3 separate regions of the Homo sapiens genome follow, and all the other regions are linked to region 2. The links come from fine-mapping of genetic effects on gene expression. A gene starts in region 2. Each other region holds a variant in brackets. All regions are shown on one strand. Distances are between the middles of the regions.

Evidence for each region. PIP is the estimated chance that this variant, and not a neighbour inherited with it, causes the effect.
Region 1: its variant is the best candidate, but not a certain one, in a credible set for the expression of HDHD3 in minor salivary gland (GTEx, PIP 0.54).
Region 3: its variant is the best candidate, but not a certain one, in a credible set for the expression of HDHD3 in caudate (GTEx, PIP 0.85).

What each region holds. Positions count from the first base shown.
Region 1 is chr9:113,344,945-113,350,593 of GRCh38, forward strand. It overlaps BSPRY (B-box and SPRY domain containing), which reads left to right and starts at 4,597. Exons shown (of 6, transcript NM_017688.3): 1 at 4,597-4,836. The coding sequence starts at 4,636. RefSeq lists silencers at 4,565-4,634, 4,665-4,944. The variant C/T (reference allele first, on the strand shown) is at 2,117.
Region 2 is chr9:113,374,267-113,379,915 of GRCh38, forward strand. HDHD3 (haloacid dehalogenase like hydrolase domain containing 3) reads right to left here and starts at 2,720. Exons shown (of 3, transcript NM_001304509.2): 1 at 2,463-2,720; 2 at 1,187-1,301; 3 at 1-263. The coding sequence starts at 88. RefSeq lists a silencer at 2,572-3,091.
Region 3 is chr9:113,352,125-113,357,773 of GRCh38, forward strand. BSPRY (B-box and SPRY domain containing) reads left to right here. Exons shown (of 6, transcript NM_017688.3): 2 at 2,116-2,214. Among named protein-coding and RNA genes, the nearest start is that of BSPRY, 5.4 kb to the left of the region's middle. RefSeq lists a silencer at 392-441. The variant G/A (reference allele first, on the strand shown) is at 3,280.

The DNA.
Region 1 (5,649 bases), 29 kb before region 2:
ACCTGTAAGTATATTTGTAGCAGTTTTTCACACATTGTAAATCGTGTGAGGTTCTTTGAAGATTGGGGAGCAGAGTTCATGGTACAGAAAGACATCTTGCACTTGCTAGTCCTCTGTCTGGAAATCTCCTCCCCAGATGTTTTCATGCCTTGCTTCTTCCAGTGCCACTTACCTGAGAGGACTTCTACACCATCCTTTCTACACCAGCACCTCCATCATGCTCTTTTTCTTGTAATACTTGAATCTTTTTCATAGCCCTTATCATTACTGACATTATATTACATATCCATTTGTTGCATTTTATTTGTGCATGAAAGTAGACTTTGTTCTTCTTGACTGTTGTATCCCCAGTGTCTAAGGCCTGGCACATTGGCAGGGGCTCAATAAATCTGTTGAATGACTAAAATGTAACAATGGTGTCCATTCTTCTCTCCCTAGCTCAGAGTGCCTGAAGTTCAAGTACAGCCCTGCCTATGCCCATGAAGCCTCCAGAGGTCCCCTAAGAGCTCTAAGCAGCTTTCAAATTTTTTTGACCTCATAAAGAAGTACATTCATTCTCCACGGTGCATATGTACGTATATATAGGCCAAAGACAAAATTACAACAAATGTAGTTGAGTGATCTTATTGGCTTTTATTAGCACTTCTAGAATCAGGCAACACCTAATTCTATAAAACAGAATGTTCCAATGAGCTGAACAGAGGACATGGGCTTTATAGGTAGAAAAGAGCTGGAAAAAAAAAGAGGATTACTCATTTCAAAGTTACTTTCCTTTTAGGGTTAAAACAGAGAGGACTTCCTTATCATGCCAGCTAATTCTGTACTGTTTGGGGATTTTAATATGCTCTCTCTTTCTCTTTTTCTCTCCCAATTTCTTGGAAGTTCAGATAAACTACTTAGTTTTGGTTTGGTGAAGTGGCAGTTTAGCATGAGTAACTCCATTTTGTTTTGGTTTGGTATGGTGGGGCCTAGTGTGGAAGCCCAGTCCAAAACAACGACCTTCCATCCATTTTGTTTACCTATATATATGTAATTGAAACAACAAAAACCTTACTAAGAGCATGTTTTCTGTTCTTTATTCTTTTCTTTTTTTCTCTTTTGGAGACAGAGCCTCACTCTGTCACCCACCACCCAGGCTGGAGTGCAGTGGTATAGTCTCTGCTCACTGCAACTTCTGCCTCCCGGGTTCAAGTGATTCTTCTGCCTCAGCCTCCCAAGTAGCTGGGACTACAGGCATGTGCCATCACGCCTGGTTAGTTTTTGTATCTTTAGTAGAGACGGAGTTTCACCATGTTGGCCAAGCTGGTCTCGAACTCCTGACCTCAGGTGATCCACCTTCCTCAGCCTCCCAAAATGCTGAGATTACAGGCGTGAGCCATTGTGCCCAGCCTTTTCTTTCTTTTTATAAAAGATGCTGATCTCCACCCCTTGAATTTCTTGATATGCCACCTAATAAAGGGTTGCCACTGCCTTAGGGCAGTGTTTCTAGAAACAGTCAAGGGGCTCCTTTGCATCCTAGTCAAGGAGTGACTGCCACAGATGCAGCTTCTTGGCTTCATCCCAGACTTAATGGATGAAAATCTTACCGGAAAGTCTGCGTGTTTTACAACTCCTCCTCTTTCCCCTCCTGACCATCCCCTGTCCTCCAACGATTCCGAAGCCTGATAAAGCTTAAGAGCTATAACCGGGGAGTTTATGAGTATCCCAGATGTGTCCTGCAGGGCTTGATGAACAGATAGGGAAAGGGCGATTCTCCAGTTCCAGTCCAACTTGGCTCATAAGTGGTGAAACAGAGGAACCCGACTTGATAAAAGTAAATCTACTCCTACCTTAGCCCTTTGCATTTGCTGATGCCACTACCTGAAAGTAATTCTGGTGATTTAGGGGCTGTTTTCCAGATCCTGGACCTGGTAGGGCCAATGACTGCTCTAGGGCCACACCCAGTGAAGGCCCCCCTCCCCCCCCCCCACCTTTCCCTAAGGATTTTAACCCTTGTTCCTCCCCCTGCCCTCCACAACCTCTTTTCTTTCTTTTCTTTTCTTTTCTTTCTTTCTTTCTTTTTTTTTTTTTTTGAAACAGAGTGTTGCTCTGTTGTCCAGGCTGGAGTGCAGTGGCG[C/T]GATCTCAGCTCACTGCAACCTCCACCTCCTGGGTTCAAGCGATTCTCATGCCTCAGCCTCCCCAGCAGCTAGGATTACAGGTGTGCACCACCATGCCCGGCTAATTTTTGTGCTTTTAGTAGAGACGGGGTTTCACCATGATGGCCAGACTGGTCTCGAACTCCTCAAGTGATCCGCCTGCCTCAGCCTTCCAAAGTGCTGGGATTACAGGCATGAGCCACTGCTCCTGGCCACACAACCTCTTTTCTTTTTAGCCTTCACACAAAAAGCACCTCCTATTTTCTTTGTTTTCACCATAGGGTTTAATAATTCCCCATCCCCAGTCCTTAGAAGGAAAAAATTCTAACCACAATCTCTAATTACCATGGCCTATTTCCCTCCCCACCCCCAGAGGAGTGTAGATGCTGTTATGAGGCCATCACCCTCCCACTGGGATGCACTGGAAACTTCTTTAGATGCCAGGAAAGCAGCACCCCTGTCGCCAAAGAACCTCACACAATTTACATTCTGAAACCTGCTACAACTGTATTTACAGATCCTCACACATATAATAAAACCTTTTATTATCCCCTACTGTATATCAGACACCCAAAGTAAATACTTTGTAGACAAGATCTCATTTCATTCTTGAAGTAGCCCTCTAAGGTAGATGATAGTATTATTATCACCTCTGTTGTAGAGATAAGAAAACAGACACAGAAGCTGTGAGTAACCTGACCAAGATCCCATAGCTGTAAGCTGCATAGCTGGGATGAAACCAATGACTATATTTCACTCAGTGTTCTCTCTAATCATATGGTGTAATATTGTCTATCTGGGGTGACAATGTGTCCCCATTGGATGATGACACCACTGTGTACCGCTCTGGGTAGCTCTGGGGCTGTTAGCTGCCCTTACCCCTCAGGTGCTAAAGCAGTAGTGGCTGAGAAGGAAAGGGTTCTATCTCCTTTGTGTGGCCATTGCTTAGAGAAGCTTCAGAGTAGAGGTGCTAGAGCCCCTGTGAGCTATGGGATGTAATGTTTCTCTTTCGGTTTAGCTCCCGCCTGTGTTCAGTTCTGATGCACTCAGAGTACTCTCTGACACCTGAAGGCCTGGGCCCTTCCCCTTTTGAGAGAGTGCCCAGCTTTCTGCCAAGACTCCTAAGAAAGAATTTGGGGTTGGTGGCCGGGCGCGGTGGCTCACACCTGTAATCCCAGCACTTTGGGAGGCTGAAGGGGGGAGATGGCTTGAGCCCAGGAGTTTGAGATCAGCCTGGGCAACATGGCAAAACCCTGTCTCTACGAAAAATACAAAACTTAGCTGGGCACGGTGGCATGTGCCTGTAGTCCCAGCTACTCAGGAGGCTGAGGTGGGAGGATCACTTGAGCTGGGGAGGTCGAGGCTGCAGTGAGCTATGATTACACCACTGCACTCCAGCCAGGGTGACACAGTGAGACCCTATCTCAAAAAAATAAAAAAAAATAAAAAAAAAAAAGAAGAAGAAGAATTTAGAGCTGGAGAGCAGCGTTCTCCTTGTATGCCCAGACAGACTAGACTGGATCCCCAGCAGAGGGCTCAATCTGGGCTCAGACTAATATATAAGATCCTGAGGGTGGGAAAAGCCCTAAACAGCTCAGGAACATGTTAGCAGTTTTTCTTTCTGGGGTGGGAGTGGGTGGATTTTTCTTCCACATGCTTATTTGCATATTTTGTTTTCTTCGAAATAAAAAGGCATTACTTTTTTTCAATGCTAGTTTAAAAAGAAAACTCAAATATTCAAATTCAAAAAGTTTGGATGTAAATACTTTGGGAAAATCAGCCTAATACAGATATTTCTCACTGGGCCTCAATGTTCAATTTAAAAAATTATTAATTATAGTAACCTTAAGTCACACTGCCTAGGTTCCAATCTCATAGCTACCAATTAGTAACTGTGACCCTTGGCAAGCCACTTAACTTCCATAAAAATGGGATCCTAATAGTACTTTCCTCGCACTGTTAGTAGACACTTAGCGATTGCAGCTGCTATGTTCCAGATATTGTTTTACGTATTTAGCGTATTTACTCCTCAGACGTCTGGGAGGCAGGTACTCTCACCCCATTTTACAGCTGGAGTTCCCACCCAGTGAGCAGCCAAACGGGATTTGAACCAGGCAGTTTCTCAGCAGAGCCTTGCTTGAAGCTAGGCATCTAAAGCTGCCTCTCAAAAAGGGCAGTGGTCGGGATTACATAACAGAACGCTTGCAAAGCTCTCAGCGAAAGCCTGGCACTTAATAAGTGCTCAATAAAGTTTCCTACGGTCACAGTAATATTTGGAGTTTTATGTTTGTTGTAGAACAAATACGCATACAATCGCGATTTCATTCAACAAGGAATTTAAAGAGACCTGCTGCCCCGGGCGGGATGGGAGCGCGGGTTGGGTGGGAGGAGGCGCAGCTGCGGGGCGCGCTGGCGCACCGGGAGGGCCGGGGGCGGGGTCAGCCAGGCCCCGCCCGCCGCCACCTGCGACAGGTGGAGCGCACGGGGCGGGCGCACGGCCATGTCCGCCGAGGGCGCGGAGCCGGGGCCGGGGTCCGGGTCCGGGCCCGGGCCGGGGCCACTCTGCCCCGAACACGGCCAGGCTCTGAGCTGGTTCTGCGGCTCCGAGCGACGGCCCGTGTGCGCCGCCTGCGCGGGGTTGGGCGGTCGCTGCCGGGGGCACCGCATCCGCCGGGCGGAGGAGCGCGCCGAGGAGCTGCGGGTGAGCGGGTGTGGGCGCCGGAAGGCGAGGGCTCCGGAGACCCCGGGCGCGCCTGGCGGGACCCGGCAGGGACTGGGGAGCCTGGGGCTGGGCGGACTCGACACCCGGCCCCGGAGCCTAGGCTCCTCGGTGGCTTTGGCTGTAGGACTAGGCGGTTAAGGGTGTGGCCTCTGAAGTCAGGCTGGCCTGAGTTCGAATCTACTCCCTGTGAGTCACGTAACTCTGAGCCTCAGTGTCTTCATCTGTAGTTTGGGGACAACAACAATAATAATAGCGCGTATTTATTAGAGTTGTGAGAAATAAATAAGATAGTGGGTAAAATGCTTAGCGATAAGGGGATCCAGGCTCCCCAGGCCCCTTCCATTGCTCTGTTGAGGAAGCTGGGGCTGGCATGAAAGGCTCAGCTGCTCCAGTTCTCAGCGCAGGGTGTGCCCCAGCTCCCGCCCCTGTGGAAACTGACACTGATAAAATCCAGCGCGACCGTATCCCTTAACCCCTGGACTCAAAGCCCCCCTCCTCCTTTCGCCTCTTCCCCCTGCTCCTAACCCCTTCTGGCTTCTGGTGCGGTGATCTCTTTTTCGCTTTCAGGATTGGCCTTGACTGTACTTCAGGCTGGTTTAAGGGCTTCAGCTGGATAAACGGTGGGGGTAGGGAGAATATCAGGGGATTCCCCTTCACCCAGGCTTTCTCGCCACCTCCACTTCCAGCTCGGCTCCAGGGTGGCCACCTCCTTGTCATCACCATTCTCCTGAGCTGCTGAGATTGGGAGAGTCGAAGTCACCTTGGGCTTCTCTGTGGCCCCTGGGGATTTCC
Region 2 (5,649 bases):
CATAGGCCTCCCCTAAGGGGTGGCGGAGCCTGAGCAGCGTGTCCTTCACATCCCACGTCAGCAGTCGTATCTGCAGCCGGTGTGCCATGGAGGAGGCCAAGTCCACCCCAGTTCTGCCTCAGGTCCCACGGTGGGTCCCAGGGGAAGCTGAGCTGGATAAGACCACCTCTGCGCAACCTAACAATCACCTCTTTCCAGGCCTTGTGGGTCAGATTTGCTGGCTAACATGAAGCACTTGGGAAATGTCTTCACAGCACAAGATCCTAGAATGAAAAATAGCAGGTAAGGTGGAAGCTCAGGCCCTGACATCAGACAGACTGGGTTCAAATTCTGGTGCTGCCAATGGTGTGACCCTAGGAAAGTCACTCTGAATCCACAACAAATTTCTGAGCACCTTTTTGAGCTAGCTGCTAGCATATGGGATAGATTTCCAGCCCTTAGGGCATTTACAGGCACTGAAGAACAGGGATACGGATATTAGGCAAAGAACTATACAAACACTTAAATATAATGAAGTCAATAGATACCGTAAGGATCTAAATCCAGGGACCGCATCTAGTCTGTGTAGTTAGGGAATGTCATAAGCAAGTGAAGTTTCTTTTTATTTATTTTTTTTAATTTTTTTGTGAGACAGGGTCTCTCTCTGTCTCCCAGGCTGGAGTGCATGGCTCATTGCAGCCTCGATCTCCCAGGCTCAGTCAATCCTCCTGCTTTAGCCTCCCTAGTAGCTGGGGCTACAGGCACGTGCCACCATGCCCGGCTAATTTTTGAACTTTTTGTAGAGATGTGGGGTGGTGGGGCGGGGTGGGTCTCACTATGTTGCCCAGGCTGCTCTCCAACCCCTGGACTCAAGTGATCCCCCAGCCTTGGCCACCCAAAGTACTGGGATTACAGGCATGAGCCATCACTCCCAGCCCTGCAAGTCAAGTTTCAATGGAGATCAGAAGAATGAATGTGCAAGAAGCAGAGGTAGGTGAGTGCTCCCGTCAGTGGAAATAGCAAGTGCAAAGGCCCTGAGGCAGGGCAAGTAGACAGAGGCCAGCTGTCTGGCACACAGGACACAATTATTATGATTGCTATTATCATTATTAGGGATGTCAAAGACAGAAGGGGCCTTGCAGAGCATATGAACGATATCTTGGCTGCTGGGCAGAGTAGACTGAGCCAGAAAGGGGCAGGTACTTACCCAAGGTCACAGTGAGTCAGTGGCACAGCCAGGACCAGAACCCAAACTTCCAGACTCTCTGGCCAGTTCTTCCACTGTACCATGAGATATATTTGGATTTTAAAAATTGGTGAACCTGTACAGCACAGGAGAAAAGACAGGACACAGCAGGCTGTCTGTCTCTAGCCCTCTCTGAACCCCAACTTTTCCATCTTTACTGGAGGTAATAACACTGGCCTAGGAGGAGAGCTGATGAGAGAACTGACTCAAGGCACAAGAAACAAGTGACTCAGCCTGCTATCCAGAGGCTGGTGCAGCTTCTTTCCCCAGACAGAGCTGATCCCAGACAAGGCCGTCCCCTTGAAACCTGAGGGGCCAGAGTTCAAAGTACGGCTAAGTTGATACTTAGGGAAGGGCGTCACTGGTAAATCTGGGGGAGCCTTGGAGGAAGTTTGTCCAGGAAATGAATTAAGGAGACTCATCCAAAGATCCTCTCATTTTGCAGGTGGGTAGACAGAGACCCAGTGAGGGGCAGTAATTTACCCCCAAATCACACAGGGAGTCACATTGGCACAGCTAAGACTAGAGCAGAGGGCTCTGGCTCCTGACCCACGGCTTTTTTTTTTTTTTTTTTTTTTTTTTGAGGCGGAGTTTCGTTCTTGTTGCCCAGGCTGAAGTGCAATGGCGCGATCTCGGCTCACTGCAACCTCCGCCTCCCAGGTTCAAGCGATTCTCCTGCCTCAGCCTCCCAAGTAGCTGGGATTACAGGCATGCGCCACCATCCCCGGCTCCTTTTTTTTTTGTATTTTTAGTAGAGACGGGGTTTCTCCATGTTGGCCAGGCTGGTCTCGAACTCCCGACCTCAGCCTCCCAAAGTGTTAGGATTACAGGCGTGAGCCACTATACCCGGCCGGCTTTTTTTCTTTTTTTTTTTTTTTGAGACAGAGTCTCACTCTGTCACCCAGGTGTACAGTGGTGCGATCTCGGCTCACTGCAACTTCCGCCTCCCGGATTCAAGCGATTCTCCTTCCTTAGCCTCCAGAGTAGCTGGGACTACAGGCGCGCGCCACCACACCTGGCTAATTTTTGTATTTTTAGTGGAGACGGGGTTTCAACTATGTTAGCCAGGCTGGTCTCGAACTCCCGAACTCGTGATCCTCCCCCGCCCCACCCCGCCCCCCGGCCTCCCAAAGTGCTGGGATTACGGTAAAGGCGTGAGCCACCGCGCCCGGCAGGGCTTTTTCGATTTCTAAAACCGCGGGTTTGGGGCTCTGCGCTGCAGGCACGAACTGCTCACCTTTTCTCCCCACCTCCAGGGCTCGGGAAAGGCGAAGTCCAGGAGCCCGGACCTGACGCAGAATGTCTATAGCTGCCGTCGGCAGCGTGAGCTGGGGCGGCGGTCCTAGGGGCCTTGGCCGCGGCCGACCCCTTGGGTCCCCTTCTCAGCTGTAGGGCGTCCACGGCTCCGGGCCGGTTCCTGGGCCCAGGACCCACCTGACTCACAAGGAAGCAGATTGAAAACGCAGCCGCAAGGCCCGCGAGCTCGGGCGGAGGTGCGCAAGCGCCGGGCGGTGGGGCGGGGATCGCGCGGGCCGCCCCTCCCTACCATCCCGACCCGCCTCTGTCCCCGCCCCGTCCCCGCCCTTATCCCCCTCACCTTCGCCCTCTCCCGCCCCATCTCCCGTCGCCCTCGCCGTCCCCTCTCCCTCCTTCGTCTCACTGTGCACCTCTCTGCGCCCCTGTCACCCGCCTTCACTGCGCGCCTCCGTTACCCTGCACCATCTACGCCCCTTATTCCCTCCCCGCACCCTCTGAGGTTCCCCAGCCCGCACCCTTCCGCTCCGCAGCCCCCGTTACCAGCACCTTCTCCGCCCTGTCTGCGCACCCCCTGCCCGCCACACCGCCGCTCCTCACCGCTGTCTCCGCTCCCCATCCCCAACCCCGGCTCCTGGCCTCCTTTGGATCGGGAAACCCCCGAGAAGTACCCAGGTTGAGTGGGAGGAGGGGAGTTGGGACCCAGCCTGGCTTGCTTAGTGTTGTGTGAACCTGGGCAAGGCCCAGCCCCTCTCTGGTCTCAGGGTCCCCAGTTGGTATTGGAGGGAATTGCTTTCAGTTGGAAACTTGTTAAATCCAAGATAACTTGGTGAGGGTAGAGTCCGCTGCAGTAACCTGCTTTTTTATTCTTTCTCTTTTTTTTTTTTTGAGACGGAGTCTCCCTCTGTCGCTCAGGCTGGAGTGCAGTGGCGCGATAGCCCACTGCAACCCCCGCCTCCCAGTTTCTTGCGATTCTCCTGCCTCAGACTCCCCAGTAGCTGGGATTACAGGTGTGTGCCACCACACCCAACTAATTTTTGTATTTTTAGTAGAGACAGGGTTTCGCCGTGTTGGCCTGGCTAGTCTTGAACTCCTGACCTCAGGTGATCCGCCCACCTCAGCCTCCCAAAGTGCTGGGATTACAGGCATGAGCCACCGCACCTGGCCTCTTTTTGTTTTTAAGAACCCTGTGGTACCATCCTGGCTAACACGGTGAAACCCTGTCTCTGCTAAAAATACAAAAAATTAGCCGGGCATGGTGGCAGGTGCCTGTAGTCCCAGCTACTCGGGAGGCTGAGGCAGGAGAATGGCATGAACCCGGGAGGCGGAGCTTACAGTGAGCCAAGATTCTGCCACTGCACAATATTTGCCTGGGCAAAGAGCGAGACTGTGTCCCCAAAAAAAAAAAAAAAAAAAAAGATCCCTGTGGTAAGAGCCTGGAATCCTAACCACTAGACCACCAGGGAGCTTTTTTATTCTTTTGAAGAATAAAAAAAGAGTTTTATCTTTGTTTGCAAAAGTAATGTATGTTGGCTGGGCGCGGTGGCTCACGCCTGTAATGCCAGCACTTTGGGAGGCTGAGGTGGGTGGATCACCTGAGGTCAGGAGTTCAAGACTAGCCTGGCCAACACGGTGAAACCCCGTCTCTACTAAAAATACAAAATTAGGCGAGGTGGTTCATGCCTGTATTCCCAGCTACTTGGGAGGCTGAGGAAGGAGAATCGCTTGAACCGGGGAGGTGGAGGTTGCAGTGAGCCAAGATCAGGCTACTGTATTCCAGCCTGGGTAACAAGAGCAAAACTCCATCTCAAAAAAATAAAAAAATAAAAAAATAATAAATAAATAAGGTATGCATGTAATGCATGTTAGTCTCAAAAAACTAAAAAATACAAACATATGAGAGTTGGCCATGCAGAGGGGAAGGATCTGAGTGATGGTTAAGGGACCCCCTGATGCAAAGGCCTCCAGGCAAGAAAGTTTTTTTTCCGAACCAAAGAGACACTGAGGAACTATAGGAATGTTGCTAGCCAGGGGGTTTGGGCCAAAGAGGCTGGGGAGGTACCGGAGGGGAAGCTTTGAGATACTTCTGTGCCTGTGCTCTGTTCCTCTTTAGTCTCATCACCTTGCACTATGACCTTAGGCAAGACAGGTCATAAGACAGCCCCCACCACCCAGGCCCCTTTGAGAGGGTCTTGCCGCATACCCTGGAGGAAGGAACACTGCACAGAGAGGCCAAGAAGAATCTACACAGATGGGTCTTGGTGGGTTTCTCTATTCAGTCTATTAGCGTTTTGTGCAATCCTGTTTCTACATGTGAAGGGGTGGCCTGCCCCTCCACACCTGTGGGTATTTCTCATCAGGTGGGACGAGAGACTGAGAAAAGAAATAAGACACCGAGACAAAGTATGGAGAAAGAACAGTGGGCCCAGGAGACCGGCGCTCAGCATACGGAGGACCTGCTCTGGCACTGGTCTCTGAGTTCCCTCAGTATTTATTGATTACTATTTTCACTATCTCAGCAAGAAGAATGCGATAGGAGAGCGGGCTGATAGTGAGGAGAAGGTCAGCAAGAAAACATGTGAGCAAAGGAATCTGAGTCACAAATAAGTTCAAGGGAAGGTACTATGCCTGGATGTGCACACAGGCCAGATTTATGCTTCTCTCCACCCAAACATCTCAGTGGAGAAAAGAATAACAAAGCAGCATTGCTGCCAACATGTCTCGCCTCCCGCCACGGCGCGGTTTTTCTCCTGTCTCAGAATTGAACAAATGTATAATCGGGTTTTATACCGAGACGTTCAGTTTCAGGGGCAGGCAGGAGACAGAGGCCTTCCTCTTATCTCAACTTCAAGAGGCCTTCCTCTTTTACTAATCCTCCTCAGCACAGACCCCTCGCGGGTGTCGGGCTGGGGGACGGTCAGGTCTTTCCCATCCCACGAGGCCATATCTCAGGCTGTCACATGGGGAGAAACCTTGGACAATACCAGGCTTTCCAGGGCAGAGGTCCCTGCGGCTTTCCGCAGTGTATTGTGCCCCTGGTTTATCGAGAATGGAGAATGGCGATGACTTTTACCAAGCATACTGCCTGTAAACATTTTGTTAACAAGGCACATCCTGCACAGCCCTAGATCCCTTAAACCTTGATTCCATACAACACATGTTTCTGTGAG
Region 3 (5,649 bases), 22 kb before region 2:
TAAAACTCCCCTGAGCTCATGGATGATGCTCATAGCTTTGAGAGCCATGAACTGCTGAACCTCTTGTGGTCAAGGCAGTGGGTGTTCGTTCATTCAACAAATATTTATTCAGGGCCTTCTATGTTCAGAAACTCTCTTTGAGGTACTAGGACATAGAGAAGTCAGACTTATGGTGCTTCTGTTCCAGTGGTGGGGGAGACAGATACCCAAAAAGGTAAACAAACACATAATATATAGTCAGAGAGTTATAAGTGCAAGGGAGAAAAATAAAGCAAAGTAAGAGATTGGGTGAGGAGGGAGATGGTCAGGGAAGACCTCTCTGAAGAGATGACATCTGAATGCAGTTGGGGAGTGAGACACACACACACACACACACACAGACTGGTGGAAACGGAACTGCAGGTGCAAAGGCACTGAAGTCAGGACAAGTTTGGTACATTTAAGGAACAGAAAGAAGGCCAGCATGGATAGAGGTAGAAAGTGATGTTGGAGAAATAAGCTGAGTCACATCAGGTGGGGCTAGGTTGGCTAAGCTAAGAAGCCTGATGTCATTGTGAGTGTACTGAAAGCCATTGGAGGGTTTTGAGTAGGGGCATGACCTGGTCTGATTTCCTTACAAAAGGTGGCTCTGGCTAGCTGGGGGGTTGGGGGTGCAGGGTACCCAGTTAAGAGGTTCTAACAGTGGTTCCTGTGAGAGATCATGGCAACCTGGATAGAATAACTGGAGTAGAGGTGACCAGAGGAGAGAGAGAGACTTTGGAGATGGGGTTGATAGGACTCACTAATGGAATTGATGTGGGGTTGGAGACAAACTCCTGGGTTTTTGGTCTGGGTAACAGGTGAATGATTGATGGTGCTGCTTAATGAATGAGGATAACTTGGCAGAGAGCAGTTCTGGACAGAACAGAAGGTATGGACAGTCAGGCAGCTGAGTATGACGGAGGACCAAGAGTGTGTGCGCCAGAAAGTGGTTATAACGGGCTGAGCGTGGTGGCTCACACCTGTAACATCCCAGCACTTTGGGGGGCTGAGGCGGGAGGATTGCTTGAGCCCAGGAGTTGGAGACCAACCTATGCAACATGGCAAAAGTCCATCTCTACAAAAAATGCAAAAAGTAGCCAGGTGTGGTGGCACGTGCCTGTAGTTCTAGCTACTCAGGAAGGACATGGGAGGATCACTTGAGCCTGGAAGGTCAAGGCTGCAGTGAGTCTTGATCATGCCACTGCACTCAGCCTGGACGACAAGCAAGACTCTATCTCAAAATAAATACATAAATAAATTTAAAAAGAAACAAACGCCTGGGTGCGGTGGCTCACACCTGTAATCCCAGCACTTTGAGAGGTCAGGGCGGGCAGATCACCTGAGGTCTGGAGTTCGAAACCAGCCTGGCCAACATGGTGAAACCCTGTCTCTACTAAAAATACAAAAATTAGCTGGGTGTGGTGACACACACCTGTAATCCCAGCTACTTGGGAGGCTGAAGCAGGAGAATCGCTTGAACCTGGGAGGTGGAAGTTGCAGTGAGCCGAGATCGCACCACTGCACTCCAGCCTGGGCAACCGAGTGAGACTCTGCCTCAAAAAATAAATAAATAAAAAAAAATAAAAATAAACACAAGACAAAATGGACTTTAAGGCAAACATAGTACTAAAGATAAAGTCACTTAGAGAATGTGCAGTTCACCAGCAACATATAATGATTCTAATCTTAAATGTTTCTAAATAATATAGCCTGAGAATATTCATAGAGCAAAAATTTGTTTTAAAGTTATTATAATGATAGGCTGGGGTTCTGGGATGAAGACGGAGGTGAGGTCACAGAAGGGGATGATGGACAGTGAAAGGTAGTCCCACTAGTGTGTTGGTGGCCTCAACTGAGCTGTTGCTGGAATAGGTATCCTAGAATTAGGGAGTGAGAAGGATAGGGCATGGTGGGGAGAGTGTGGATCCTTGAAATGGAGATTTAGGAGGTGGTACAGTTTTTGATAATGATGAGATCTGGGCTATGACCATGGGAGTGGGTGGCTGACATGTGGTAACAGGAGAAAATCACTGGGATGGAGTGAATGGCTCAGGTACATGGACCAAGATGCCACAAGCGTTGTTTGTGTTGCAGAACAAGATTGTGGACCAGTGTGAGAGGCTGCAGTTACAGAGTGCTGCCATCACCAAGTATGTGGCGGACGTCCTGCCGGGGAAGAATCAAAGAGCAGTGGTAATTCCTCTTCTTTCCTCTCTACTCAGCCCCCTCCCAGGATAAGGCCTTAGACTTAGGGACTTGGGCAAGTCTAGGGTCCCTTACCAACCTCACAGACTCATTGTGCTACTAGCAAAGCTTCTCATCCCTCAGAGACTCAATTTTACCATCTGGGCAGGGTGGGCTTGTTCCTGTACCATACTTGGTGCAAAGACTCTGCTAGCAAATGACTTTCTTGGGTATCTTGGCATAGGGGATCAAGAAGGGTCGTATTCTTCTACCATCTGGTCATTTTCTGCCCAGCTGCAGAATTATAAAATAACCTAGGACTTTTACATTGAATATTCTCTGTGACAATCTTATGAAGTAGATAGCAGTAACATCCCCATTTACAAATAGGAAAATGGGTCCTTATAGAGGTTAAAGAGGTTAACTGACCTGTCCAAGGACCCCATAGCCTCCTGGCAGTCGGTTCTGTGACCTGGATCTTCTGTCTCCTAGGCTAGTGCTCCTTCTGCTGCATCCCACTGCTGATTCTTTTTTTTAATTTTTTTTCTTTTTGAGATGGGGCCTCACTCTGTTGCCCAGGCTGGAGTGCAGTGGTGTGATCTTGGCCCACAGTAACCCCTGGTTCAAGCAATTCTCCTGCCTCAGCCTCCCAAAGTGCTGGGATTACAGATGCCTGCCACCATGAGTGGCTAACTTTGTAAATTTTTAGTAGAGACGGGGTTTTACCATATTGACCAGGCTGGTCTCGAACTCCTGGGCTTAAGCCAACCTCCCTCCTTGGCCTTCCAAAGTACTAGGATTACAGGTGTGAGCCGCCATGCCTGGCCTCCACTGCAGATTTTTTTATTCAGTGGACTCATTACCACTGCTGTGTCATCACTTTCAAGTATGCCTATCAGGGGCAGAGCCTATGAATTTCTTTCTGCATATCCCCTCCCTCCTTTCCCTATAGTACACGGAACAGACTTGGTACCACATTAGTCAGAGTTCTTTTAATTGCATGGAACAGAACCCAGTTGAACAAGTATAAGCAAAATGGGGCATTTCCTGACAGGACACTAGGGGTCCTCTTAG[G/A]ACCTAAAAGGGGCTAGACCAGGAACCAGAAAGCTGCTAGGAGTCCAGGCAGCTACTTGGTGCCCATCTATGCTTTGCTTTTGCATGATGGTCTCCATCTCCCTCCCCTGCCCTCTTCCCCTCTTCTTCTTTATCCTTTTTATTTTCTTGTCTTACTGCACTGGTTATGACCTTAGTACTGTGTTAAATAGAAGCTAGTGTGGCAAATCCTGGCTTTTTTTTTTTTTTGAGACAGAGTTTCACTCTTGTTGCTCAGACTGGAGTGCAATGGCGCGATCTCGGCTCACTGAAACCTCCGTCTCCTGGGTTCGAGCGATTCTCCTGCTTCAGCCTCCCGTGTAGCTGGGATTACAAGCGCCCACCACGACACCCAGCTAATTTTTTGTATTTTTAGTAGAGATGGAGTTTCACCATGTTGGCCAGGCTGTTCTTGAACTCCTGACCTTAGGTGATCTGCCCACCTCGGCCTCCCAAAGTGCTGGGATTACAGGCGTGAGCCACTGTGCCTGGCCCGACAAATCCTGACTTTAAGAGGAAAGCTACCAATATTTCACCAGTTATTTATTTAACAAATCTTTATTGAGCACCTACCATGTGCCAGATACTGTTGTTCAATGGGTTAGGCATTCTCCAGTGAACAAAACAGAAATTCCTATTTTCATGAAGCCTACATTCTTGTCACAGAAGAGGGACAGTAACAAAATCTATGTTATGTCCGAAGGTGATATGTGCTATGGGGAAATATAAAACAGAAAGGGGAATAGGACGGGTTGCAATTACATGTGCTGTGACCAGGAATGACTTCATTAAGAAGGTTGAGGCTGGGCGCAGTGGCTCATGCCTGTAATCCCAGCACTTTAGGAGGCTGAGGCGGGTGGATCACGAGGTCAGGAGTTCCAGACCATCCTGGCTAACGCGGTGAAACCCCGTCTCTACTAAAAATACAAAAAAATTAGCAGGGCATGGTGGCGGGCGCCTGTATTCTCAGCTACTTGGGAGGCTGAGGCAGGAGAATCACTTGAACCCGGGAGGCGGAGGTTGCAGTGAGCTGAGACTGCGCACTGCACTGCAGCCTGGGCAACAGTGCGAGACTCTGTCTCAAAAAAAAAAGAAAGAAACACTTTGGCTGCTATGTTTAGAAGTGATTATAGGCGGCAAAGGTTAAAGCAGGGAGACCAGTTAGGAAGCCATTGTAATAATCCAGGTGGGAAACAAGTGTGGTCTGGACCCAAGCAATGGTGGCAAAGCTAGTGAGAAGTGGCTAGATTCTGCATATATTTTGAAGAGGCAACAGGATTTGCTGATGGACTAGATGTAGGCTATGAAAGAAAGAGGGGAGGTGTCAGGATAATGCTGAAGTTTTTTTATTTGAGCAACTGGCAGGATGGAGCAGCCATGAACTGGGTGGGGGAAGGACTGCATGTGGAGTGATGGTTGGCGGAGGCAGGGAGGGGAGTGGGGGAGAGCAGGCATGCTAAGTTGTTGTGGGCATGTTATGTTTGAGATACCTATTTGACATCCAAGTGAAGGTGCTGAGTAGGTAGCTGCATATATGAGTTGGGAGAGGGCTGGGTTGGAGATATAAATTTGGGATTTATCAGTGTATAAATAGTATTGAAAGCCGTGGGAGAGGATGACATCACTAAGTGAATGAGTGTAGACACGAAAGAGCAGCGGTCCAAAGACTGAGCCCTAGGGCACTTCACCTCCTATTGAGAAGACAGAAGGAACCAGCGAACGGGGACCAAGAAATCAGCTAATGAAACGGAAGTAAACTAAGAGAGCAGAGTGTCCCAGCATGGGTTCCAAGGAGGTGGGAGAGATCACTGCTCTCAAATGGTGTATATTTATTTAACTATCTTATCACAGGCATAGATTCATGTGATTACTACCACAATTAAAATACAGAACAGTTCCATCACTAGGACTCCTTGTGCTACCCTTTTATAGCCACATGTACCCTTTCCTATCCCCTTGTATTATTAATACAAAATTTCTGAATTTGGATTGCTAATCTCAGTAAAGCATTTTTTATTTTTGTTTTAGGATTTTTGCTTGTATGCTCAGGAGTGAGATTAGTCTATGAATTTCATTTCTTGTACAGTCCTCATCAGATTTGGTATCAAGGTTATGTGAGCCTTATTCAATGGATTGGAAAACAGAACTCTTTTTTCTTAAGGGTTTACTTAAGATAAAGTTGTTCTTAGTTTTGATCAAAGTTGCCACAGGTTTGACTGTTAGTCTTTAGAACCAGCTTCTAGTATTTTTGGTCTACTCTTTTGTATCTTTGTCTTAATTTCATTATTATTTCTTTCTCTTTTTTTAGACAAAGTCTCACTCCATTGCCCAGGCTGAAATGCAGTGGCGCAA